Linked DNA regions of Homo sapiens. The protein of the gene in region 1 purifies or fractionates together with the protein of each later gene. This does not show direct contact. Each region holds a gene or a part of one and is shown in the gene's direction. Other genes may lie near its edges.

Evidence for each region.
Region 2: the proteins of LRRIQ1 (region 1) and TNFRSF10B purify together in Homo sapiens (affinity purification with mass spectrometry; 2 studies listed by BioGRID and IntAct, with this or other methods). This does not show direct contact.
Region 3: the proteins of LRRIQ1 (region 1) and PTPRF purify together in Homo sapiens (affinity purification with mass spectrometry; 2 studies listed by BioGRID and IntAct, with this or other methods). This does not show direct contact.
Region 4: the proteins of LRRIQ1 (region 1) and BMPR1A purify together in Homo sapiens (affinity purification with mass spectrometry; 2 studies listed by BioGRID and IntAct, with this or other methods). This does not show direct contact.
Region 5: the proteins of LRRIQ1 (region 1) and NDFIP1 purify together in Homo sapiens (affinity purification with mass spectrometry; 2 studies listed by BioGRID and IntAct, with this or other methods). This does not show direct contact.
Region 6: the proteins of LRRIQ1 (region 1) and NOTCH3 purify together in Homo sapiens (affinity purification with mass spectrometry; 2 studies listed by BioGRID and IntAct, with this or other methods). This does not show direct contact.
Region 7: the proteins of LRRIQ1 (region 1) and MYO5A purify together in Homo sapiens (affinity purification with mass spectrometry; 2 studies listed by BioGRID and IntAct, with this or other methods). This does not show direct contact.

The regions. Positions count from the first base shown.
Region 1 is NC_000012.12:85,056,851-85,060,350, forward strand, and holds part of LRRIQ1 (leucine-rich repeat- and IQ domain-containing protein 1), read left to right. Parts: coding exon 1-334; intron 335-3,500.
Region 2 is NC_000008.11:23,041,532-23,045,031, reverse strand, and holds part of TNFRSF10B (tumor necrosis factor receptor superfamily member 10B isoform 1 precursor), read left to right. Parts: intron 1-1,788; coding exon 1,789-1,894; intron 1,895-3,500. UniProt on the Homo sapiens protein: Receptor for the cytotoxic ligand TNFSF10/TRAIL. The adapter molecule FADD recruits caspase-8 to the activated receptor.
Region 3 is NC_000001.11:43,537,383-43,540,882, forward strand, and holds part of PTPRF (receptor-type tyrosine-protein phosphatase F isoform 1 precursor), read left to right. Parts: intron 1-815; 5' UTR 816-895; intron 896-3,500. UniProt on the Homo sapiens protein: Possible cell adhesion receptor. It possesses an intrinsic protein tyrosine phosphatase activity (PTPase) and dephosphorylates EPHA2 regulating its activity.
Region 4 is NC_000010.11:86,889,119-86,892,618, forward strand, and holds part of BMPR1A (bone morphogenetic protein receptor type-1A isoform 3 precursor), read left to right. Parts: intron 1-943; coding exon 944-1,106; intron 1,107-3,008; coding exon 3,009-3,111; intron 3,112-3,500. UniProt on the Homo sapiens protein: On ligand binding, forms a receptor complex consisting of two type II and two type I transmembrane serine/threonine kinases.
Region 5 is NC_000005.10:142,129,279-142,132,778, forward strand, and holds part of NDFIP1 (NEDD4 family-interacting protein 1), read left to right. Parts: intron 1-2,529; coding exon 2,530-2,617; intron 2,618-2,933; coding exon 2,934-3,064; intron 3,065-3,500. UniProt on the Homo sapiens protein: Activates HECT domain-containing E3 ubiquitin-protein ligases, including NEDD4 and ITCH, and consequently modulates the stability of their targets. As a result, controls many cellular processes.
Region 6 is NC_000019.10:15,190,996-15,194,495, reverse strand, and holds part of NOTCH3 (neurogenic locus notch homolog protein 3 precursor), read left to right. Parts: intron 1-1,976; coding exon 1,977-2,119; intron 2,120-2,197; coding exon 2,198-2,536; intron 2,537-2,628; coding exon 2,629-2,751; intron 2,752-2,838; coding exon 2,839-3,072; intron 3,073-3,500. UniProt on the Homo sapiens protein: Functions as a receptor for membrane-bound ligands Jagged1, Jagged2 and Delta1 to regulate cell-fate determination.
Region 7 is NC_000015.10:52,308,881-52,312,380, reverse strand, and holds part of MYO5A (unconventional myosin-Va), read left to right. Parts: 3' UTR 1-3,500. UniProt on the Homo sapiens protein: Processive actin-based motor that can move in large steps approximating the 36-nm pseudo-repeat of the actin filament. Can hydrolyze ATP in the presence of actin, which is essential for its function as a motor protein. Involved in melanosome transport.

The DNA.
Region 1 (3,500 bases):
CTTGAGTAACTATAATGCAGAAAGCTCCATGGTATCTAAAGAAGTCAACTCTCTTAAATCTGAGATTAGAAATATTTCAGAAAAATGCCATGAAAATGCACCTGAACCTGATAGCATGACCTGCTGTGTATCAGAGTCAACCCTTCTATATTCTATTGAAGAAAGGAGACTAGCCTGGATAAAATCATTTAAACCTTGGCTTGAAATTTTCAAGCAAAATCAACAAAAGAAAATTGTTAGAAGAAAGAGACCTGTGAAATGCCCAGCCAACATGACACCCGCTTTGGATAAACTGGAAATTCTTCGATGTGGCCCTTGGGATACTTTACAGCAGGTATTTCTAATTTTATAATAATTTTTCACATTTAATTACAATTAGCTCTTTAAAGTATAACTTTTCAGATCTTAGAAAAAGAAATATTTTGTATACAAGAATTGTCTCTTGTTTAATAAAGTTATGAATGAAATATTACCCCATTTGGGAGGGGATATATCTCAACAAATTGTTCGAGGCATCTTCCCTAAGTGACACTCTATAAAAAGCTTTGATTTATATTTTTTAATATCTTGAAGCCTGTGTTCAAGGGCCCTCCAGTCATTATTTAAACCTCTAAGAATGGAAGCATATAGAAAGTTAGGGTTAGAATTATAGTAGGAAACTCCTAAGTAAACAGAAGTTTGCTTTAGACTTGAGCCACCACACCACCTAGTGGCTGCTTTTGGAATAAAGTGGATTTTATGTCCATGACCACTGTTGTGAAAGAAGGGCTTGCATGATAGAAGACCCTGAAGACCCTAGAATTCCCATCTAGCAACAATTATTTAGCGTGTGCTATTTAAAGGTGGTGCATATATGTCTGAAATGTAAAATAGTTGTCATCAAATGTTACTAATTTTATATGGTTATGGAGAACATAGTTTCAACCAAAATTAAGACACAGAAACTAATAAACGTATAGAAAAAGAGAAAATAATATTTTAAACAGTGTAACACTAGAAAGCACTTATGATTAAAATACATATATTTAGCTAAGGCCTGAAAGTCAAAAGTATTCAATAAAGTTTATTTAGTTTCTTGATAGACTTTCTTGCTAGACAGATGCCTAGGAGAAAGAACAATCATATTAATAGATAAACATTATTTTGTTTATTCACTCAGCAAATATTCATCTATCCAATAAGATGATCAATATTTATTGGTTGACTAATAAACAAAGAAAACCCAGTCTTTTACGGAGCTTAAACACACATAAATACGTTATTATGGATCTTGAGAATTGCTGTAAATAAGGCTTCAGAGTATCCTGTGAGAGAATAATAAAATAGTGGGATTTTGAAGATATTTCTGGTATATGAAATAGCAATATAAGAGATGAGAACTGGGACATACACTTTTAAGTGTCTTTTATTTCCTGGGTAATGTATTTGCCACATCTGTCAGGTCTGCAGAGCTACATATAGAATCTCTCATCTGCTCTTCTCCAATTTTTTCCTTGCGCATGTTATCTCTGGAATCATGTTTTAGCACTTTTCTTTCTCTAACATATTGCTGCAGGCCTTCCAATATGATAACATTAGCAATTATTTAGTTTTCCTCATGAGTATCTGTTAAAGCTAGGCAAGAGTGATGGCTTCATGCCTACAGTGTACTTGCTTCAAAAGTGAAAATGAAGTTACAGAAACAGTAGTGTTCCTCCCTTGCTTTGTAGGTCTCTGTTCTGTCCAATGAGAAGGAAGTTAAGATGTGTGAGCCTCTTTCTCCTTGGCATTTCTTCTCCAGCTGACTCTCTGTTCCTTCTTTCGAACGTTTGTCAATTTACATAAAATGATAATTAACTCTTTCTTTTACTTCTTAGAGCAAGGCCTGGCAAACTATTAAAATCTATAGAATACCTGAAGCTTTGTAGAAATGTGGATTCTGATTCAATAGGTCTGGTGATCCACCCATTCTCCATTCTTGCAATGATTCTAAATGATGATGTTGGTGCTGGTGAGTGGACTAATCTGAGTAGCAGTGTTCTAAAGGGCACCATAATCCTCTCATCCCTTCTTAAAGCAACTATCTCAAGCTTTTAATTTAGCTTTGAAGCATCAAATAGGCAGTATAAAGATGAAAAATACATGTGAATGTGCCATATAGATGCTAAAATGTTAAGAAAATATCATCTTTTGTTACCAGACAACTCCTGTAAAGATTCTGTTTGGTAGATGGCTTACCATGGTGTCTTTATTCACCACTGTTACTACTGATCCATGGCTCAGTTTCTTTTTGACTTTCTGATCTTTTAGCTTCAGATCTTTATCCTTATCCTGATCACTCACTGCCATCCTTGGGATGTCCTTCTGGAGATCAACTTAGAAAAGTTTATTGTCTCCCAGTAATGCATTCATTTTGCTTACATTAATCTCTTACTTTGAGACTTCAAGACATAAATCGGATCTTCGTGTTGTTCATACTTCTTTACACATTGCCAGGCAAATAAAGATACTCCTCAAGTTACAATGAAGTTACATCCAGATAAACCTACATAGCTTACAACTGGGCAAAATCATCTGGCAACGTGGTACACTGTAGAGTATTTGTTGTTTACCCTCATGATCATGTGACTGACTGGGAGATGCAGCTCCCTGCCGTTGCCTGACATTGTGAGAAATGATCATACTTTATATTGCTAGCTTGGGAAAAGATCAAAATTCAAAATTTGAAGTATGGTTTCAACTAAATGTCTATTGATCTCACACCATCATAAAATTTAAAAAAAATTCTACGCTAAACTATCTCTTGTCAGGAACTATCTGTAATGACTTTCATTACCTGATTATAGGATGGATGAGTGGGGGGATGAATCAATTGATGAATAAAGAATTCCAGTCGAAATATTTAATGTAGAGGACGGGTTGATGGGTGCAGCAAACCACCATGGCACGTGGCACGTGTATACCTATATAACAAAACCGCATGTTCTGCACATGTATCCCATGTATACATGTAACCTAAAGTATAATTAAAAAAAAGAACTGCAATTGAATGTTAATCTTATCTCCTCATTACTACCAGTTTCACAGTTTAGATAAAGTATATTGACTGAAGAGGAAATGAATGTAAAATTACTGAAGTGTAGCTTATTAGACTACTAAGTTCTATGTTAAGACTGTTTCTAATTTTATTTCTGCCACTTATGGCTGTGACACCTTATGCAAATGCTTGACCTGTATGAGCCTCAGTTTTGTCTTTCACAAACTGGAACAGCAATATCTATTATATAGGATCACTGAGTTTTAAAATGCTGTATGTAAAGAACATGGCCCAGGGCTTCTAATACCACTTGTCAAATGTGGGTCTCAAGCAAGCAAAGAGAAGGCAAATGGATTGTTTTCGAGGGCTGCTTAATAGCCCGTTTCATCAAAAAAGTTATAAAGTTGAAAATACTAGACCATTGGGTTATATGCAGTAATATCTCAAAAGAGAAGACTAAAGAGCAATAATTATGGGTAATGAA
Region 2 (3,500 bases), on another chromosome or scaffold:
GTTGGCCAGGCTGGTCTCCAACTCCTGGCCTCAAGTGATCCATCCGTCTCGGCCTCCCAAAATGCTGGGATTATAGGCATGAGCCACTGCACCTGGCCTCCTCATTCATTTTTGATTTAATTTATTTGTCTTCTTTCTTTTTTCTTAGTTAGTCTAGTTAAAGTTTAGTGATTTCATTTATTTTTTCAAAAAACTAACAGAATTTTGATAATCTTTTGTATTTTTTTCAGTCTCTATTTATTTTTGCTCTGATTTTTATTATTTCTTTTGTTCTGCTAACTGTGGGCTTAGTGTATCTTTTCTTCTATTTCCTTGAGGTACAACATTAAGTCTTGTATTTGAGATCTTTCTTCTTTTTTGATGTAGGCGTTTATTGCCATTTCCTCTTAAAACTGCTTTTGCTGCATCCCATACATTTGGTTATGTTATGTTTCCATTTCATTTTCTAATATACTCTTAAAATTCCCTTTTGATTTCCTCTTTGACACATTGGCTATTCAGGAGCTTGTTACCATTCAAGTTCTTTGTTCATTTCTTAATCACATTGTTGGCTTTTTGTTGTTGTTGTTGAGTTGGAGTTTTTTATATATTTTAGATATTAACCTTTTATCAGATATACAACTAGCAAATGTTTTCCTCTTCCTGTGGGTTGCCCCTTCACTGTTGATCATCATTGGATGCACAAAAGTTTTTAATTTTTACATAGTGCAATTTATCTACTTTTTTTCCTATATTGCTTGTGTTTTGGGGATCACATTCAAGAAATCATTGCCAAATCCAAGGTCAGGAAGAATAGTTCCTATGTTTTCTTCTAAGTTTTAGGGTTTTCACTTTTATGTTAGATTTTGGATCCATTTTGAGTTAATTTTTGTATACGTGTAAGTTAAAGGTCCGAGGTCATTGTTTTGTGATGAGTCAATGTCTAGATTTCCCAAGACCATTTTTAAAAAGATTGTCCTCTCAATTAAATGGTCTTTATACCTTTGCCAAAAATTACTTGATCATATACAGTCATGCACCACATAACAACATTTCTGTCAACAACAGACTGCATATGTGATGGTGGCTCCATGCAATTATGTAACATGCTACACAGGTTTGTAGCCTAGGAGCAAAAGGCTATACCATATAGGCCAGGTGTGTCATAGGATACACCATCTAGGTTTGTGTAAGTACACTCTTCTGATGTTCACACAACACAATTGCCTAATGACCCTTTGCTCAGAACAATGTTGAGCAATACATGGTTGTACGTGCAAGTTCATTTCTGGGCTCTCTGGTCTATATGTCAGGCACCTTTTAAATCAGAAGTTCACTATTTAATGTTTGATCCTGTATCCCAATTTTTTAAGTTTGCTATATTATAACCCCCATTTATAAAAATGTGTGTCTGTGTGTATGTCTGTGTGAGAGAGAATAAGAGAAAGAGAGAAAGAGAGAATAGGCATACCTATGGAAAAATAGTGGAACTAAATGAGACAAAATATTAATGGATGCTATCTTTAGCTGAGAATATCACGTGTGGTCTGTGTATTCTTGTAAAAACTTTCCTTGCCCACATTTTCTGGAATGAACATGTTTAGAAGAGTTTTGCAGGTGTATGTTACTTGGCCTTCCCTGAAATATGAAGGGACAAACAAACACTAAAGGATGTTTGAGAGGTGAGAGCTGCAAGAAAGATGAGGGTTCTGTTTAGCTTGGGTGCCTGGGCTCAAGAGAATGTGAGTGGATCCTGGGAGGGGTGAGGTCTGGAAGCCACTCATGCCCATCCCTGCTTTGTCCCCACAGGTCTCAGCTGAGTCTGCTCTGATCACCCAACAAGACCTAGCTCCCCAGCAGAGAGCGGCCCCACAACAAAAGAGGTCCAGCCCCTCAGAGGGATTGTGTCCACCTGGTATGTTCAAGATGGGTCTCTAATCCTTGCCCCTCCTCCCCTTGTCTCCATGAGCTTCCAGTCTGTTTCCTTTGCACTTCCTTGTTCTTTATTCCACAGAGAGGCATTGGGTGCCTCCAGTTCAAGGCTCTGTCCTTCTGGAGCCTTCCTGCTAGGATGGTATCAAGACACACAAATGAATGAGACAGCCAAAGAAACTGATAGGAACCTTGAGAGAGAATTGAGTGGGACAGAGATGGGGCTGGTGAGGCCTCCAGGCAATGGTGACTTTGGGCTGACATCCGGAGGAGGGCAGGGCCAGAGGTTCAGAGAGCCAGGAAGAGTGCTCCTAGGAGGGTTCCACTGGAACAATTGCCAGGGGGCAAGAGTTGGAGAAGATGGAGCAACAGCAGGGGGCTGCTGTGGGGAGTGGAGGGTTAGGAAGTTAGAGAGACACGTGGGGTCAGATCCCACACAGATGAAGCTGGATTTTATTTCATGAGTGATGGATGTCCCTGAGAAGTTTTCAGCAGAGGGCCACCAGCATCGGATGTACATCTTGAGTGCCCACTCCTGGACTGAACCGGAGCAAGACAGGAAGCAGGTGGAGGGCCTTGAGTGTGAGGCGCTCCCCTGGGATGTTATGTGGTGTCCCGTAAGGTCATTTGAGCCCCCAGAGATGCAGCAGGAACCTGGCCTGAAGTGTGCTTGACTGTTGTGTTCGCCTCGCACTTCTTCCCCCTTTTCCCCCATGTGTATGAGTTAGGAATTGATTGCTGCATGAAGGTTTCCAGGGCAGGCAAGTGTGGCAAGCAGTGGCTTTTAAAATCCATTTACAAAGTTGCATTTCTTTTCCATGACTAAGGGCCACAGGAAAGGCTTGCCTGAGGGCAAACCCTCACATTGCACATGTGGGCTTGCCAGGAGCAGAGCATGGAGAAGGAAGAACCCAGCGTGAAGCAGACACAAACTCATCTGTAAATGCTCCTATTGCTGTGGTCCAGGGTCAAGACCAGGAAGCAGGACGGGAATAGGAAGGACTCAAGACATATTTGGGGTGTGGATGGATGACGTGTGGGGAATGAGGACAATCGAGGCACCAAATTCAACTGCTCAGGGTAACTTGGCCTCTGAGGGGACAGTGTGTGGCAGGGCTAGCAGTACACATTTGGGGACCCTAGCACATAGGTGATGCTTGAAGCCGCTGTCTTGAGTGTGTCCACCTGGAAGAAGTTGTAAATACTGAGGAGGGGCACAACTGAGCCCATGAGGATTTGAAGTTGGAGACGATAGGCCAGGGAGACAGGACTGCAATGGGCTGAGCAGGAGCAGTTGGAGAACTTCCATCCTAGAGGAGAGATGGCCCTTCCAGCCACAGGGAGCAGGCCATAGCAAGTGTCAAGGACTGAGATGTGGAAACTCCTCGAAATGTGCATTTCTCTTCCTGTGAATGAGGTCAAGAATCTGTTCATGACACAGACACTGTTTGTACACTGGTTCTCCTAGGTTTTCTTCACTCCTAGTAAGAGGTTAGGTTTTTTTTTTTTTTTTTTTTAAATCATTGAGTCACATGAATTCTTACAGATTAGGGAAATTATACATTGATTGATTGATTGATTGACTGATT
Region 3 (3,500 bases), on another chromosome or scaffold:
TGTATGTTGGGGTGTGTTCTTCCAGGCTGGGCTGTTTTCTTTGAACTCATTCATGCGTTCATCCACTCATTCAGTGTATGCTGACTGAGCACCTACTATGTGCCAGCTGTCAGCCAGGCGCTGGGGATACGGAAATGAGCTGGGCAGCCACAGTCCATGCTCCTATCAAGCTTATGGTAGTGACTCAGTAATTGTAAAAATATATAAATAGTCATGTTTGTGGTCACGGCTCCAAGCCAAGGTCCAGGCAGGTAGTCTGGGACATTGTGGAAGGCTTCCCTGAGAAAGTGCCACTGGACTTGAGATCCGAGGGTAAGTTGGCCAGAAGAGCATGGGTAGCCTGTGCCAGGCAGTGGCATTCAGCACTGGCAAGGCTGGGAGACAGGAAGAAATTTGGCACATTTGAGGATCAGAAGAGGAAGTTCCCGTTCTGGCAGGAGGAGAGCATGGGCAGGTAGGGCTGCAGAGGTGGGAGGGGCCGACTCTGCTTGGCTCTGGGGTCATGCTGAGGAGCTGGGCCACAGAGTCTACTGCTGAGGTCAGGGACTTGGTCTGTGTGGCTCACAGCTATATGGCTGGTGCCTGGAAGGACGCCCAGCACATAGTAGGTGCTTAGGGAGTATCAAAATGAATGAGCGAGGGAGTGAAGGGAAAAGATGGGCATTTTTACCAGATGGGGATGGTTCTACATGAACATTTCCATAACCTGCTTTTTTTTCTGCATAAACAGCAAATTTTTAATGTCTTTCTGTGTCAATACATATGCTGTTGTGATGAAATTCTTGATGTTTTCTCATGCTTTCCTTTCTGTCCAGGAAGGAGTGGAGGCCCTGGTGCCCGGCCCTTGGTGCTGAGTATCCAGCAAGAGTGACCGGGGTGAAGAAGCAAAGACTCGGTGAGTGTGCCCCACAGAGTGGCCAGGAGCAGGGGTGCACAGGGGTCCTATGGACCAGGCTGAGCAGCTTGGATTTGATGCAGGGTCAGTGGAGAGCTATAGAGGGGGTGTCAGCAGGGGGCATGACATGATCCAGTGTGCACTGGTGAGAGATTGTGGAGGCCTGGACCAGGGAGGCAGTGACAGAAGTGGAGAGAAGGGATGTGAGTGCTATTTAGGGAGGTAGAGTAGACAGGACGTGGTGAAGGATTGAATGTGGGGCATGAAGGAGGGGAGGTGTCAAGGATGGTGCCTGAGTTTCTGGCTGGAGTGGATGATAGAGGTGGATGGGGAATGACATACAGCTCGTCAGCTACTGTAGGTGTGAAATAGGCTTCCGGGTGATGTCCTGGGACTTACACCAGGATCTTTCTTCTGCTTCTCCATTCGCCACGTTTCTGTAGAAAAGACTGTTCCCATCGACTGTAGGTTGTCGTAGAAAGAGCTTGGTGCCTGCAGGATCTGGGCATGTCCTCTGCATCTCTTTGATGTCCCCTTGTTCTCCTCTCTGTCTGTTAGAAGCACAGAATGGGTGGGCTGGAGTTGCAGGGAATGAGGTTGGTAAGTTGGTTTAGAGTCAGCATCATGGGCCTTGGATGTCAGGCTAAAGACTTTAGACTTTTTCCTGAGGGCAATACAGCAGCATTGAAGGTTCTTAAGCAGAGAAGCAATATCCATGTGTTGATCTGTCCATTGCCCATCCGTTCATTCTTTCACGGAACACTGTCTGAATGCCTGCTGTGAAATAAAGTGGCAAACAAAAGTGCAGATTTGCATTTTTATGTGCTGAAAGGTGGCACTGGTCTGTGTGCGGGATGGGTTGGGAGTGATTGAAGGCAGGAAGCCCACCAAAGAGGCAGGAAGTGATGAGGTCTTACTAACACAGTGGCAGTGAGGATGGAGGCAGGTCAGATTCAAACTTATTGATGGGTTAGATGTGTGGGATGAGGACAAGGGAGCATTTAAGGAGGGTTTGCGGGCTTGGTGACTGACAACATGGTGGTGCTGTCCCCAAGACTGGACACCCTGGAGGAGGAGTGGAATTGGGGCAGATGAGTTCTGGTTGGGCCATCCTGAGCCAAGAGCTCGGTGGGTCTGTTCACCCTCTGTAAGCTCCTCGAAGGCAGAGCCTGTGACTCTCTTGTTCATCACCCTGCCCACTGAACATCTGGACGGGTGGCTGAACTAACAAGGCTGTGGAAGAGATGGGTCTGGCCTGGGTAGGGGAAGGAAATGTGTATGTCCTGGGTGTCTCCTGGGGTCCAGACCCTACGTTTGGTGAGATGGGCACTGGGGTTATGTAGAGGGTGCAGCAAGAGGGGCTGTGTCACAGGCTGGAAAGGTCAGATGGGGAGGGTGGGTGTAGGGACACTATGTGTCCCTTTGCCTCTCCATCCTCAGATGATGGTCTGACCTAACTCGAAGTCCAGTCTTGCCAGAATAGGTACCTGAAGGTGGAGCCCTCTGTCCTCTCGGGAGGCCACTAGCTGATGGCATGTCTGGTGGGGTGCAGATGGGGTGTGCTATAGGACCTGACTTCTGGAGGCTGGGTAGGGCTGATGTGGGGGTACAGGGGAAGATACTCTGAGATCCTGAGGCCAGGCGCCAGCAAATACAGGAGTTAAGCCAGGTTGGAGCTTCCTTGGGTACAAGGCCCAGGGTGCCCACAGGGGATTGGGTTCTGGGGCAGGGGCCAGGTCAGGCTCTAGGCTCAATTGGCAAAGGATCTTGTTGTCTGTGTTGGGGTTTCTCAGCCTCAGCACCATTGACATTTTGGATCAGATAACCCTTATTGTGGGGGCAGGGCTTGTTATTGTAGGGTGTCTAGCAGCATCCCTGGTTTCTTCCCCCTAGATGCCAGTAGCATCTCCCCGCTTTCCCCAGTCTCGACAATCAAAAATGTCTCCAGTCGTTGCGTAATGTCCCATGGGGGCAAAATTACCCTGAATTGAGAACCTCTGGTCTACAGCCTCTTGCTGCTTTCACTATACTGTACAAACCTGGAAAATTGGGGAGGGTCAGTGGGGAAGATGGATAGTGATGGGCCACTTGAGCAGAGTTCTGAGGGGTGAGTGAGTGCTGGGGCAGGAGAAGGACATTTTTTTCCAATAGACAGAACGGCAGGTACAGAGGCTTGGAGGCACAAAGTTGGGAAACAGTAATCCAAGGGGGACCCCAGCCCCAGAGGAAGGGGCCTGGAGGCTTAGGGGTTACAGCCGCAGGAAGATACCTCTGCTGGTCCCCTTTGGTCATTTGCCTCCAGAGTTAGTCTCCTGCTGACCCTTTGCCGCCTCCAAGTCTCTGCGACACTCCTCCTAATCTCCCCCTCCACTCCTCAGTGAGATGGAGAAACTGAGAGCTGCAACAGGGTGGGACTCAGTCCAGCTGGTGGGAGCCCCGATACCAGCCGTGGGAGGGAGGGCTGTTCCTGGCTCTGCTCACGGATTCTGGCCAACTGGCTGGAGGAGGGAAGGCGGCCTCACCCTCTTCCCCACAGGCCCCTCCTTCCCTGGGTCAGGGGTCCTGGCTGAGACTATAATTTATTCCCGTCATAATCCAGTGGTTG
Region 4 (3,500 bases), on another chromosome or scaffold:
AATTACTAGAACAGTTTTTTTAGTTCCGTTCTGCTTCCAGCCTGAAAGATTTAGTACCAAATATGACAGTATCTGTCACTGCAGGCTGCTAGACTCTAGTGTAAGAACATAGTTCTATTTCTGTGAGCTAACTGCTGCCCTTCTATAACCTTCAGTTTCTGCCAGCATCGTCTGCATTCAAACCAATGACCTCGAGGTGAAAATCTCCAGATAACATGATTGGTCCCCATGCTCTCATGATTTCCTTACTTAAGCAATTAAAGGCCAAAGCAAGATGCTTAGTAACTCCTTTTCCACATAGAGGCACAAATAAAGGAAAGCTGGTCACAAGTTTTGAACCAAAGAGTTAAAAGAAGAATCATAACTTGTCTCTATTTAATGATTGGAAACTCTCACAGACTTCTGTGAAGTCTCTCCCCCTTTTGTACCTTTCTTACAAGTGATGACTATATACTTTTACCTGGCAGGGGAGAGACCACGGTCACGAAGGTGGTTTTCCCAGGGCGAGGCTTATTCATTGCACTCCAGATGTGCTGACCCCTGCGATTTCCCCAAATGTGGGAAACTCAACTGCATAATTGTGGTGGTGGGGGACTGCGTTCATGCTTTTCCCTGGTTAAATTAAAAAATTTTTAAGTTATTTTAAAAATATAAAAAACAAGATTTGACTGTATTCTGCCTTGCGCCACTCTTGTTTGTCTTTCACTAGTGCAAAAATTGTGATATAGCTGTCTTCATGTACCCCGCAATACCTGGTGCAGTAATTCTGTGCATAATAATGTATGTCTGTTTGTTGTATGAATGAAATTTATATTTCTAAAGAAACATGCTAGCTACAATTATTGTGATAAGAAAGCTTAACAACTTTTTCTCATTGAAAATTGTCACGAAACAATGAGCTTTTCAGAAATGATTTACTTACAAATTCCATATTTGAATGCAGGACAGAATCTGGATAGTATGCTTCATGGCACTGGGATGAAATCAGACTCCGACCAGAAAAAGTCAGAAAATGGAGTAACCTTAGCACCAGAGGATACCTTGCCTTTTTTAAAGTGCTATTGCTCAGGGCACTGTCCAGATGATGCTATTAATAACACATGCATGTAAGTATTTTATGCAGCCCTTCTTAAGAGTTAGGAGAATAGAGTTGCATTTAGTGCTATTTTAAGAATTATTAAACTTGTCTGCGGTTTTTTTTTCATTCATATATAGTATCTTTCCAGAAAGCCAAAAAGCCTTTTGTTTTGTATATTAGAACATTATTCCATTAAATGATTGATAGGTGAGTTACTATATTAGAATTATGTTATAATGCAGCTTTTAAAATAAGATCAAAGGGATCTAGTATTTAACATCTGAGTTTTTAATGATCTTTTAATCTTAAATTTATTGATGCTCATTTTAGAAAACTTAGAGGTTACCAAAAAAGAAATCAGAAAACTCACTGACAACCTCCTACTTCTTTTTAATTTAAAAAAAAATTTTTTTTTTAACTATAGACAGGATCTTGCTATGTTGCCCAGGCTGGTCTCAAACTCCTGGGCTCAAGCAGTCCTTCCACCTCAGCCTCCCAAAGTGCTGGGATTACTAGGGTGAGCTGCCACACCTGGCCTCCTACTTCTTAATTAGTTGAAATATTTTGCAGATATATATAAATCATATTGTGTTAATTAATTTTATGCTTTTTTCTTACCTGTGAATTTACCAATCCAAATCTGATTTATAAAATGATTTTAATTTTTCTAGTGTATTTCGTGTTAGCTGCACAACATGTTTATATATGATCATGTAATTCTAGTCCATATTTGTTGGAAACATTGACATATTGACTTAATAAGACCAAAAAAAATTGCCTGAACAACTCAACCTCATCAGTCAATTAATTGTCTCCTTGTTATAGAGGCAATAATGAATGTCATGTTTTATACTTTTAATAATTGTATGTTCCCTGAATGGACCAGATAGAAAGCATGAAACTTTACACGTAAACTCTTGAACCTGCATGACGGTCATCGTGTCTTAGGTTTGCTGCTTGTCCCCTGGTGGTGGTGGGCTCTGCGTGGCTGACTGTGACTAGTTGTTCATTTTTACCTTGGTGAGAGTTTGCCAGCAGGGAACTGCTCTCTGCTATGTCACCAAATAATGTTTTGCTAAACTTCTTGTCTGTAGTACCTGCCTGATGTAATGGGCTGTCTGTTAGTAGCTTAGTAACCCAGAGTAAAACTGAATCATCCATTTTAACAGAATTCTGCCCCACACTTAACATTTTCTCCTAACAGAAAACCAAGAATTCTGCAAAATTCTTCTAAGTAGAAGCAGCACAATTCCTGATATTAACAATAAATAGGAGTACAGAAAAAGCTTTTAGAAATTTCTCCCATACCTGTTAAAGTCTATATGAATATATTAAGGGGAAACTCCAGGATGCTAACACTAAAATAAGAATTTCATTATATATGTATGTAAATTTATTGAAAATTTATTCAAAAGTCCTCTCCCTGTTTTCCCATCATATTCAGTAAAAGGTGCCTTTTAGTCCCCTTTTTTTTGGTCATTAAGCCTATTTGTATGTTTCAGAGAAAAGTTTGTTTTTATCTATTATCATATACAATATGGAAGTACTGAAAAAATGGGTAAAAAGAGACAAAGTTATTTTAAAGTATGTTTTCAAAACATGACATAAAATTTTATAAATCAGCTTTCTGTGATCACATGACTGATTAGCAAAGAGAAGTCACATAACTCCTATGTGGAGGACTTGTTTAATTGAAATCCTTTTCTTCTTGACAAAGGGTTGTCACTGGCCTTTTAGATCTTGGCTCAGACATAACTTTCATTTGTCTTAAAACCTCTGGCGTTGCCAATAAATCACGTGTGAATGCAATTCTAAGTCACAAAACAAAGTATTAAAGGCCATCTGTACCTGTTCACATTCAGACTCAAATTTCGTTAGTACTTTCTATGTGAATTTATGTTTTGTTTTGTTTTGTTTTTTTCTGTTTTAGAACTAATGGACATTGCTTTGCCATCATAGAAGAAGATGACCAGGGAGAAACCACATTAGCTTCAGGGTGTATGAAATATGAAGGATCTGATTTTCAGTGCAAAGTAAGATATAATTTGGGACCCATGAGACAAAGAAGGGAGGGGCCATATGAAAGCATCGATTTCCCCCAGGAGAAACATGCCTGGTGTACACATCGCTGTATGTTCACATCAGTAAATATATTGGAGGAATACCTACTGTCTAGATTCTGTCCTGTATTCATATGTAGAATTTATAACTAAATCATTTCTGAAAAGCTAATTGTTTGATTACAATTTCCTTTTTTATTTCCATAGACAGCACCTGGCTCTGTTGCCCAGGCTGGAGTGCAGTGCTGCGATCTCCGCTCACTGCAACCTCAAGCCAGCCTCCTGCCTCAGCCTTCTGAATAGCTGAGACTACAGGTGCATGCCACTATACCTGGCTAATTTTTGTATTTTTTGTAGAGACA
Region 5 (3,500 bases), on another chromosome or scaffold:
CAAATAATGTTAAAACCAGTATTTTAGGTGAACCATGGTCCCAAGAACTCTATTTAAGTAATTCCTAGTTCGGTGTCCCAGGAGCATTTGGCTTTACTGCACCTATTTTGGCCACATGTCTTTGTTTAAAAGGAAAAATTATCTTAGGTTATAATACAGCTATTTTGGGAGTACCTTAAGTTTAACATTAGATTACTAGGATTCGAAAAAATGTACCCAGATGGTAGATGCTGATGAGAATTTGACACAAGAATTCATTTGAAATTGAAGCTTTTGTAGTATTAGTCAGAAAAATTTATTGACATCTGGTTTTGAACAGCATAGTGAGTGGAGATTGAGATGATCAGTTAAAATTTAATGGATTGTGGCCGGGCACAATGGCTCACGCCTGTAATTCCAGCACTTTGGGAGGCTAAGGCAGGCATATCACCTGAGGTCGGGAGTTTGAGACGAGCCTGGCCCACGTCTACTAAAAATACAAAAATTAGCCAGGTCTGGTGGCATACGCCTGTAGTCCCAGCTACTTGGAGTCTGAGGCAACAGAATTGCTTGAACCTGGGAGGTGGAGGTTTCAGTGAGCCGAGATCCCACCATTGCTCTCCAGCCTGGGCAACAAAAGCGAAACTACATCTCAAAAAAAAAAAAAAAAAAAGAAAGAAAGAAAATTTAATGGATTATGGAGCTCTACTTCACATTAGTACACCTCGGTCTCTCTGTTTTTCTGTCTCAATTCAAGATAGAGTTCTTTGTAGCGGTATGGTTTAGAGGTGGTATGTATTTTACAAGTATGTCAGTTGGCTCTGTATATCCTGATGATACCGAAGCCAGGACCAGACCCCTACGTCAGTTATATCACTAAATATTCTGTTATTAATTTTCAGATTGGCTCCTAGTCCCAGCCAACTCATGTTTTAAATTAATATAGTTCATTGTCACACTGGACTGGAAAAACCAAATGAAATGTCTTTATTCTATGAAGATGACTTGTGTAGACTATACAGACTAGCAACAGCAGACACTTTCAGTGCGAGTTATTTTAAAAAATTGAAGATTTGACTGGCAGAAAAGTTGCTGAGATAGGGAAAAGGGATATCTATTGACAGATATATGTAGAATTAGGGAGAATTTTATGTTTTCATAAGTGTCTCAATTATTTAAGATTTAATTTGGTGTGCATGTGGAATATAATGGTAACATGGTTTGTCTGTGATTTGTCTTTTGTCTTAACAGATTATTTTTCTAACTTTAAAAAAGTATACATCACTTGAGGCCAGGAGTTTTAAACCAGTCTGGGCAACACAGGAAGACCCCATCTCTACAAAACATAAATTTTAAAAAAAGTTAGCCAGGGTCACAGTGTGCCATAATTGTGCCACTGCACTCCTGCCTGGACAACAAGAGTGAGATCCTGTCTCTCCAAAAAAAAAAAAGTATGCAAGTGATAAATATTCACTACAAAATATTTGAACATGCAGATACACAACAAAAAGGAAAAATTCCCCTGTACTCCTATTACCTAGAAATAACAGTGTTGAACTGTAAATGTCTCATTCTAGGCCTCCTTTCCATTATATGTCTGCCTTTTTAAAAAGGATTATATGATGCCTATTGTTTGGCAAGTTTAGCTTTTTTCATGTAATAATAGTACACTGTAAATATCTATTTGAGTAATGAAATTTAATTTTTTTTTTTTTAAAGACATGGTCTCTCTCATGCCCCAGGCTGGAGGGCAGTGGCACAATCTTAGCTCGCTGCAGCCACGACCTCCTGGGTTCAAGCCATCCTGCTGCCTCAGCCTCCTGAGTAGCTAGAACCACAGGTGCATGCCACCACTCCCGGGTAATTTTTGTATTTTTTGTAGAGACAGGGTTTGTTTTGCCATGTTGCCCAGGCTAGTCTTGAACTCCTAAACTCTCCTAATCTCAAGCGATCCCACCCACCTAGGCCTCCCAGAGTGCTAGGATTACAGGTGTGAGCCACCATGCCTGGCTGAAATTTAATGTATATTTTTTTTGACACAGAGTTTCACTCTGTTGCCCAGGCTGGAGTGCAGTGGCACCATCTCAGCTCACTGCAACCTCCGCCTCCCGGGTTAAAACGATTCTTGTGCCTCAGCCTCCTGAGCAGCTGGGACTATAGGAGTGTGCCACCATGCCTGGCTAATTTTTGTATTTTTAGTAGAGATTGGGTTTTGCCATGTTGGCCAGGATGGCAAAATTTAATTTTTAATGGCCGTTTAGTAGTCCTTTGTGTGATGTACTATAATTTATTTGTCTCCTATGATTGGAATTTAGGTTGTTTCTAATTTTTGCTGACACAACACTTATATGTACCCATTTTGCCTCTTTGAATATTTCCATAGAATAACTTCCTGGGAGTAGAATACTTTTCTTAAAGGATTTGTGCATTTCAAGGCTTTCAAAATACGTTGCCAAATAGCTTTCGAGAAAGGCTATTTATTTCAGTTTTTGGGTTCTTATCTTTCTAATTGGCTTTATGCTTACATTAAAATATGAAATTTTTATTTAGTTGCAGAATGAAGAAGAGTCTGGAGAACCTGAACAGGCTGCAGGTGATGCTCCTCCACCTTACAGCAGCATTTCTGCAGAGAGCGCAGGTAGGTAACAGGGCAAGGTGATCACGGAATCCTTAAAAACACTCTGTGCTTTGACATTACAGTTTAAAAAAAAAAAAGCTTCAGAAGCAGTTGGAAGAAAGGTTACAAAGCAAGTCTGGATTTTAAATAATTGAGAAGTGGATACATTTAAAAATCACCCCCAGTCTCTTACATTCATCTAAGAATGTCTTTTGGTTCAATTGTTATGTATGTACTCTTAAGGGAATGGCTGGGTTTTGTCTGCTAGAGTTAGTGGAACTCCTTTTATTTCAATTCAGCTAATCATCAAAAAATTGTGACTGTTAAAATTCTGCAGCATATTTTGACTACAAGGATGAGTCTGGGTTTCCAAAGCCCCCATCTTACAATGTAGCTACAACACTGCCCAGTTATGATGAAGCGGAGAGGACCAAGGCTGAAGCTACTATCCCTTTGGTTCCTGGGAGAGTGAGTATAATTTGCCATGTTACTTGATGGCTGCTCTGTGGGAATTAAGTTATTTTCATTATCCAATTTTGATTCGTTACTTATGATTGTATTGATTAGTGAAAGTAGAGCTAATTTTAAAAATCAGGTACATTTGCTTTTGGGATAATAAACTCATCTCTTCTTAAAAATGATGAGGTAAATTACTAGTCAGACCTGCTCATTTTTCCTTCATCTCTCCTATTACCACTACTTTTTCAAGTCTCCTGGGATGGCTGAAGTATCTTGAAGCAGAAGCACACTAATGTTTCCTTGATTCTGCACACTTAATATTTTGCTGTTGGGTGGATAGCTGCTAGGGAGGTCTAGGAAGAGAATAAATATATGCAAATTTGTAGAATTAAACTCATAAGAGGGATCTTCACATTGATTTAGATGAACTCCGTTCTTCCAGCAG
Region 6 (3,500 bases), on another chromosome or scaffold:
ACCATAAACTGGGTAGCTTGAACAATAGTAATTTATTCTCTTGAAGTTCTGGAGGTTGGAAGTCTGAAATCAAGATATCGGCAGGGCTGAGCCTCTCCATGGGGACCCAGGGGAGAACTGACTCTTGCAGCTTCTGGTGGCTCCAGACGTTTCTCAGCTAGTGGCTGTCTCACTCCAGTCCCTGTCTCTGTCTTCTTCTCTTCCTTCTCCCACCCAAATCTCCTTTTGGCTGCCTCTCTCTTTTTTTGAGACAGAGTCTTGCTCTGTCACCCAGGCTGGAGTGCAGTGGTGCAATCTTAGTTCACTGCAGCCTTCAACTCCCAGGCTGAAGCGATCCTCCCACCTCAGCCTCCCAAGAAGCTGGGACTACAGGTGTGAGCCACCACGGCCAGCTAATCTTTTATTTTTATTTTTTAGGTGGAGTCTCTCTCTGTCACCCAGGCTGGAGTGCAGTGGCACGATCTCGGCTTACTGCAACCTCCGCCTCCCAGGTTCAAGCAATTCTTCTGTCTCAGCCTCCTGAGTAGCGGGGACTACACGAGTGCACCACCACGCCCAGCTAATTTTTGTATTTTTAGTAGCGACGAGGTTTCACCATATTGGCCAGGCTGGTCTTGAACTCCTGACCTCGTGATCCGCCCACCTCAGTCTCCCAGAGTGCTGGGATTACAGGCATGAGCCACTGCGCCTGGCCTGTTTGTTTTTTTTGTTTTTTGTTTTTTTTTGAGATGGAGTCTCCCTCTGTCAACCAGGCTGGAGTGCAGTGGTGCAATTTCGGCTCACTGCAACCTCCGCCTCCTGGGTTCAAGCGATTCTCCTGCCTCAGCCTCCAGAGTAGCTGGGATTACAGGCTCCTGCCACCATGCCCGGTTATAATTTTTAATTTTTTTTTGTGGAAAAAAAGTCTCCCTATGTTGCTCAAGCTGATCTTGAACTTCTGGCTTGAAGTGATTATCCTGTCTTGACCTCCCAAAGTGTTGGGATTACAGTTGTGAGCCGTTCTCTTGTATGAACACTTGTCACTGAATTTAGGGCCCAGGTGGATAATTCAGAATAATCTCATCTTGACATCTCTCATTTAATTACATCTGCATAGCCAGGCCTGGTGGCGTGTGCCTGTACTCCCAGCTACGCAGGAGGCTGAGACAAAGAATTGCTTGAACCCCGGGAGGTGGAGGTTGCAGTGAGCCAAGATCGCGCCACTGCACTGCAGCCTGGGTGACAGAGCAAGACTCCGTCTCTTAAAAAAAAAAAATTACATCTGCAAAGAGCCATTTAAAAAAAAAGTAAGGTCCTAGTCACAGGTTCTGGGACATGGATGTCATCTTTTCAGGGGCTGTGACCCAACTGACTACATCCTTCATGGTTCTGATGGCTTTCACCGCCCCCTGCCAGCATGTTGTATATTAATTTGTTATTCGTATATGTTCTCCTTGCCTGGACCTGGCTGCAAGGATCCAGAGGGATAGGGACCCCTTTCATTGTGTTTGTTGCTGTATTTGTATTGCTCAGAACGTAGTAGGTACTCAGTAAATATTCGTTGCATGAATGAATGTGTGTTTTGTTTTGTTTTGTTTCTTTGAGACCGAGTCTTACTCTGTCACCCAGGCTGCAGTGCAGTGGCGCGATCTTGGCTCACTGCAACCTCCACCTCCCGAGTTCAAGCAATTCTCCTGCCTCAGCCTCTTGAGTAGCTGGGACTACAGGCACGCACCACTATGCCCAGCAAAGTTTCGTACTTTTAGTAGAGACGGGGTTACACCATGTTGGCTAGGCTGGTCTTGAACTCCTGACCCCAAGTGATCTGCCCGCCGCAGCCTCCCAAAGTTCTGGGATTACAGGCGTGAGCCACTGCTCCCAGCAAATGTGTGTTTGCTGCTCTGTTTCCCTGCGTGTTTCTTGCCTGTCTTGTGTGTATCTTTGTGTCTGGGGCCATCCTGCCCTGTGCTGCCCAACCAAGCCATCTCTGCCCACAGGTGCCCGCCTGGCTGGGTGGGTGAGCGGTGTCAGCTGGAGGACCCCTGTCACTCAGGCCCCTGTGCTGGCCGTGGTGTCTGCCAGAGTTCAGTGGTGGCTGGCACCGCCCGATTCTCATGCCGGTGCCCCCGTGGCTTCCGAGGTGAGAGGGGAAGAGTCTGGAGGGGAGGTAGTCGGGGGTGTGGTCAGTCCTAAACTCACCCTGTCCTGGTCCCTCCAGGCCCTGACTGCTCCCTGCCAGATCCCTGCCTCAGCAGCCCTTGTGCCCACGGTGCCCGCTGCTCAGTGGGGCCCGATGGACGCTTCCTCTGCTCCTGCCCACCTGGCTACCAGGGCCGCAGCTGCCGAAGCGACGTGGATGAGTGCCGGGTGGGTGAGCCCTGCCGCCATGGTGGCACCTGCCTCAACACACCTGGCTCCTTCCGCTGCCAGTGTCCAGCTGGCTACACAGGGCCACTATGTGAGAACCCCGCGGTGCCCTGTGCACCCTCACCATGCCGTAACGGGGGCACCTGCAGGCAGAGTGGCGACCTCACTTACGACTGTGCCTGTCTTCCTGGTGAGTGAGCCCTACTCAGGAGAGTCAGAGGGGTGGGCGTGGGGACAGCAGGCCAGCCCGGCGGTGACCATCCTTGCCCCCTTCCCTGCTAGGGTTTGAGGGTCAGAATTGTGAAGTGAACGTGGACGACTGTCCAGGACACCGATGTCTCAATGGGGGGACATGCGTGGATGGCGTCAACACCTATAACTGCCAGTGCCCTCCTGAGTGGACAGGTGGGCACTGCGGCCAGAGGGAGCGGGGAGGCAGGCCTCGGGTGGACATGCGCCAGGTGGCTGGACTGCTGCATCTGTGTGCCACAGGCCAGTTCTGCACGGAGGACGTGGATGAGTGTCAGCTGCAGCCCAACGCCTGCCACAATGGGGGTACCTGCTTCAACACGCTGGGTGGCCACAGCTGCGTGTGTGTCAATGGCTGGACAGGCGAGAGCTGCAGTCAGAATATCGATGACTGTGCCACAGCCGTGTGCTTCCATGGGGCCACCTGCCATGACCGCGTGGCTTCTTTCTACTGTGCCTGCCCCATGGGCAAGACTGGTGAGTGGCCGTTTTCTCTGCAGGGAGCCATGGATGGTTTTTAGTGAGGGCAAATAAGAAGTCTGACTTGAGTGTTAGAAAGATTATGCTAGGCTGGGCACAGTGGCTCATGCCTGTAATCATAGCACTTTGGGAGGCCCAGGCGGGCGGATCACTGGGGTCAGGAGTTTGAGACCAGCCTGGTCAATATGGTGAAACCCCATCTCTACTAAAAACACAAAAATTAGCTGCGCGTGGTGGTGCACACCTGTAATCCAAGTCTCTCAGGAGGCTAAGGCACGAGAGTAGCTTGAACCCAGGAGGTGGAGATTGCAGTGAGCCAAGATTGCACCACTGCACTCTAGCCTGGGTGACAGAGTGAGACTCCTTCTCAAATTTAAAAAATAAAAAAAAGATTATGCTAGGCCGGGCACAGTGGCTCATGCCTG
Region 7 (3,500 bases), on another chromosome or scaffold:
GGAAAAAAAAAGAATCTCACTCACTATCTAGAGAGGATTGTCAGAATATTCACGATTCAGGTCTTGAAACTTTGATTATGCAAAAGAAGGTATATAATAAATATTTCATTATGATTCAGTTTTTAAGGCTTTGCAGCTTCTATAAGTGTTCTCAGATGCCACTAGATAATTTTAAAAGCATCATATTAGAAATACTTTAAGAAGACTTATATAAGAAATAGAAGATTGTTGAATTTTACAGAGGATTTGGTTCATTAAGACCCAGATTCTGTAAGTTTTCATTCTGAAATTCTAGTTAAACATATTCACCATTTTTCTTAGGAATCTTATACAATAAATCCTTCAGGTTGCACAAAAGCAAATTATTAGTTTTCATTAGAAACTCTGGTTCTGAATTACAATCATAGGTTATATAAATTTAACTGTTAGATGGTCTATAAATCTTATTAAAATATGTGCAATATTTATGGAAGTCAAACAGCTTCATATCAGTGATAAAGATTGTTATTAAAAGATAAATACTGTCTGTTAATTTACATGGGCCTCAAGTTCCTCGTTTATAAAATAAGAGAGTTGGACACTGATTCTTAACATCTCCTCCACATTTAAAATTCTCTCTTCTCAGCCCTTAGATTCTAGAGAGAAAAAGCTGCAGTTACTCAGTAAGTCCATTCTCTGATGGAAAGACCAGTGTGTAGTGCCTGTCAATTCCTTAGGATTAATCAAATGTAAAATCACAAGTTTGTGTAGCTGTAACCTTTCTTAAATGTACATGATTTATGTACATGCTTTTAGAAGGTCCTACTATATTTGTATTATAATTAGTTTAAGTAATTTTTATTACATCATGTATTGCTTTATTCAGTTTGAATACATTTATTTATTTATTTGCAGTATCAACCAGAAACACTACCAATTGCATCAAATTCTCCCAGTTTTTCCTGGTTGTCAATGCGGTTTTCAATGCACAATTAAGTCATAGCCATTTGGTTCGTACCAAATGTGTCAGAATCTAACAGCATCCGATAGGCTGTAAGTTGGGGAGTTGCTAAGAAAATGCAACGTGGTACAGGCTGTCCGCCTCAGCCCTGGAAATCTCCCAGACCTCCCCCAGCTTCATCCTGTGTAGCACGACTCAACGTGCACCCTGAATCTTCTCAGGTCTTCCAGGTCATGCTGTAGCTGTCACTGCCATGCAGCCCTTTTTTTTACTCCGGACAGCTCATGTACTGAAGCGTCATGAAAGAAAGGCTGTGGTCTGAGCCCTTCTCTCCCATCTCCTGTCTTTGTCCTGTCAAGTGCTGGAGCCAGAGCTCCTACAGCTGCCCTTGGTGGTTTCTCCTGTTCAGCGATGGTGGCACAAAGGTTCTGCTATTCCAGGGCTCCAGCTTCCTCCCAGGTCTACCCAGAGCTCCAGATGGGGGTCTGAATTAACCTCTCTTGGTGGCCTGGAGATTTTTAGTCATTGACAAGAATACCTTGTAACCAGGGAACCCCAAGGCCCAGTAAATGATTCTGTATACCATTTTCTTGAAGGTACAAGAAGATTCTGCCGACTATGGGGATCTTTGGGCCAGTTTGAGGATTGCTTTCCCTCTGAGGTTCTTTCTCTCTGTCAGCCACACTTTCTCACCCAACTTCAGACACACCCTGCCAGCCTTTCCCCTACTCATTCACTCTTCCCCTTCCCTCAACTTAATCGTCTATCCCGTTGCCTGCTGTTTGACTGTGCACTGAAGGCAGGTGGATGGAGTCAGTCCTCAGTTGCCCCTGCTGGCCTTCCTGGTGCTTACCATCAGCCCAATCTTTGCACAGTCCTTGTTGTTCTTACTTCTCTGCATGCATTCCTTCAGAAGATCAGTCATCAACTTTTTCTTAATTCCTCTGTGACACACAATGGGAATTCAAAGGAAGAGATCTTAAAAGTCACAACAGTTCTTTATCTTAATAATCCCCTCCCCATTCACCTTACTACATGCAGACTCACCTCACACCCTTACAACTTGAAGCTGAAAATTTAAAAGTAATTTCCCTTTTTGCAGCTTTTCCTCAGGTTAAGGCTTTGATCTGCCTGAGAGTAACTCTAAAAGGAGGGAAGATAAATATGGGATAAAATCCACAAAGTGTAGCTTCTAATTCCTTTGGAAGTTTAAAAAATTTCCACATATCTGATGCTTCTTTTGTCAGGTGCAGAAGCACAAAAACATATTCCGAAGCCAACTGATAGGGAATTTGGGGATTATTGTCAGTTTGGAGAATTTGCTGTGTTATTTCTTCATTTCCATGGATAGCTCATAGTTGGCTCTTTCTGGGTGAGTAATTATGTGTAATATAGATCAAATCTTTTACTAAGGTTACAGCTACATGTTAGGGGAGGCTATGAAAATACTATATTATTATAATTTCAGTGCAGTGATTGTTGTGAGAAATAACTTTCATGGTAACCCTAGGAAAATGGGCACCTGCCACCATCCTGAGAAGTCCTCACACAATGCCCTTTCTCTCTTACACACACACACACACACATACACACACACACACCCCCGTCACTAATTCATAGAGTTCCTTAGCAGGCATAGTCAAGGATCCTCTGGGTAATGTCAGCTGCTTAGTGATAAAACAGAGCCAAAACTAGTGCATCCTGTTGAAAGTAATGCAGAAACAGTACCTGGGTCCAGATATGCTTTCCTGCGGCGCTTTCCTCTGTTACCTCGTTTCATCCTCACAGCAGCATGGACGGTAGGTGGGGTCGCTTCTACAATCATTTCTGATGATAGCTTGGGAATAGAGATAGGGGCAGTGACTTGCCTGATGTCGCACAGCCCTCTGGCTGTCCTGCTTTCCCATATGGAGCAGTGGTGGTGTGGGCACCTGTGATGCAGGAGACTTTAAAAATGTCGTGAGGTCACGTGCTGCCCCTCCTGGTACGTGTGGAATGCCCCTGGCCAGCAAGGGGTGCTTTTTTATCAGAGTTGGCAGCTGGCATGTGGGAACCGAGCAAGTGCTGCGTACCAAGTTACTTGTTTTAAGGAGACCAAGTGCTCAGCGCCAGGTGGTTTTCTTTTTTGTCATAGTTACTTGCTATAACTCAGCTTGACTTCTGTCATGAATCAGTGCTCTCTGGGAGGATGCAATACTCTGTTTGGGCATTAATTGGTAGCAGGTTGTCTCAACCAAAAAGACAGGAAACAGCAAAAGCCTCTCTGAAATTAAGAGGAAAGTTACTCTCCCCACACCCATCAGAGTCTTTATTGGAGCCACCAGGTGAGCTGTGCAGCCTGGACAGGCCTGCAGCTATAGGCCACCTTCCCAGTTTAGGTCCTCAGCACAGGGGAGCCCAAGTCACTGGGTGCCTTCCGAGGGCTGTCACTGGGCAGGCCATATACAAGTCAGTGTGTGCGTGGGCACTGCAGTGTGTGCATGCCGTAGGTGTTGATGGGTGCTAGGAGGGGTGTCGTGTGCATGCGCGTTGAAGAGGATCTGTATTGCCGTGACCTCTG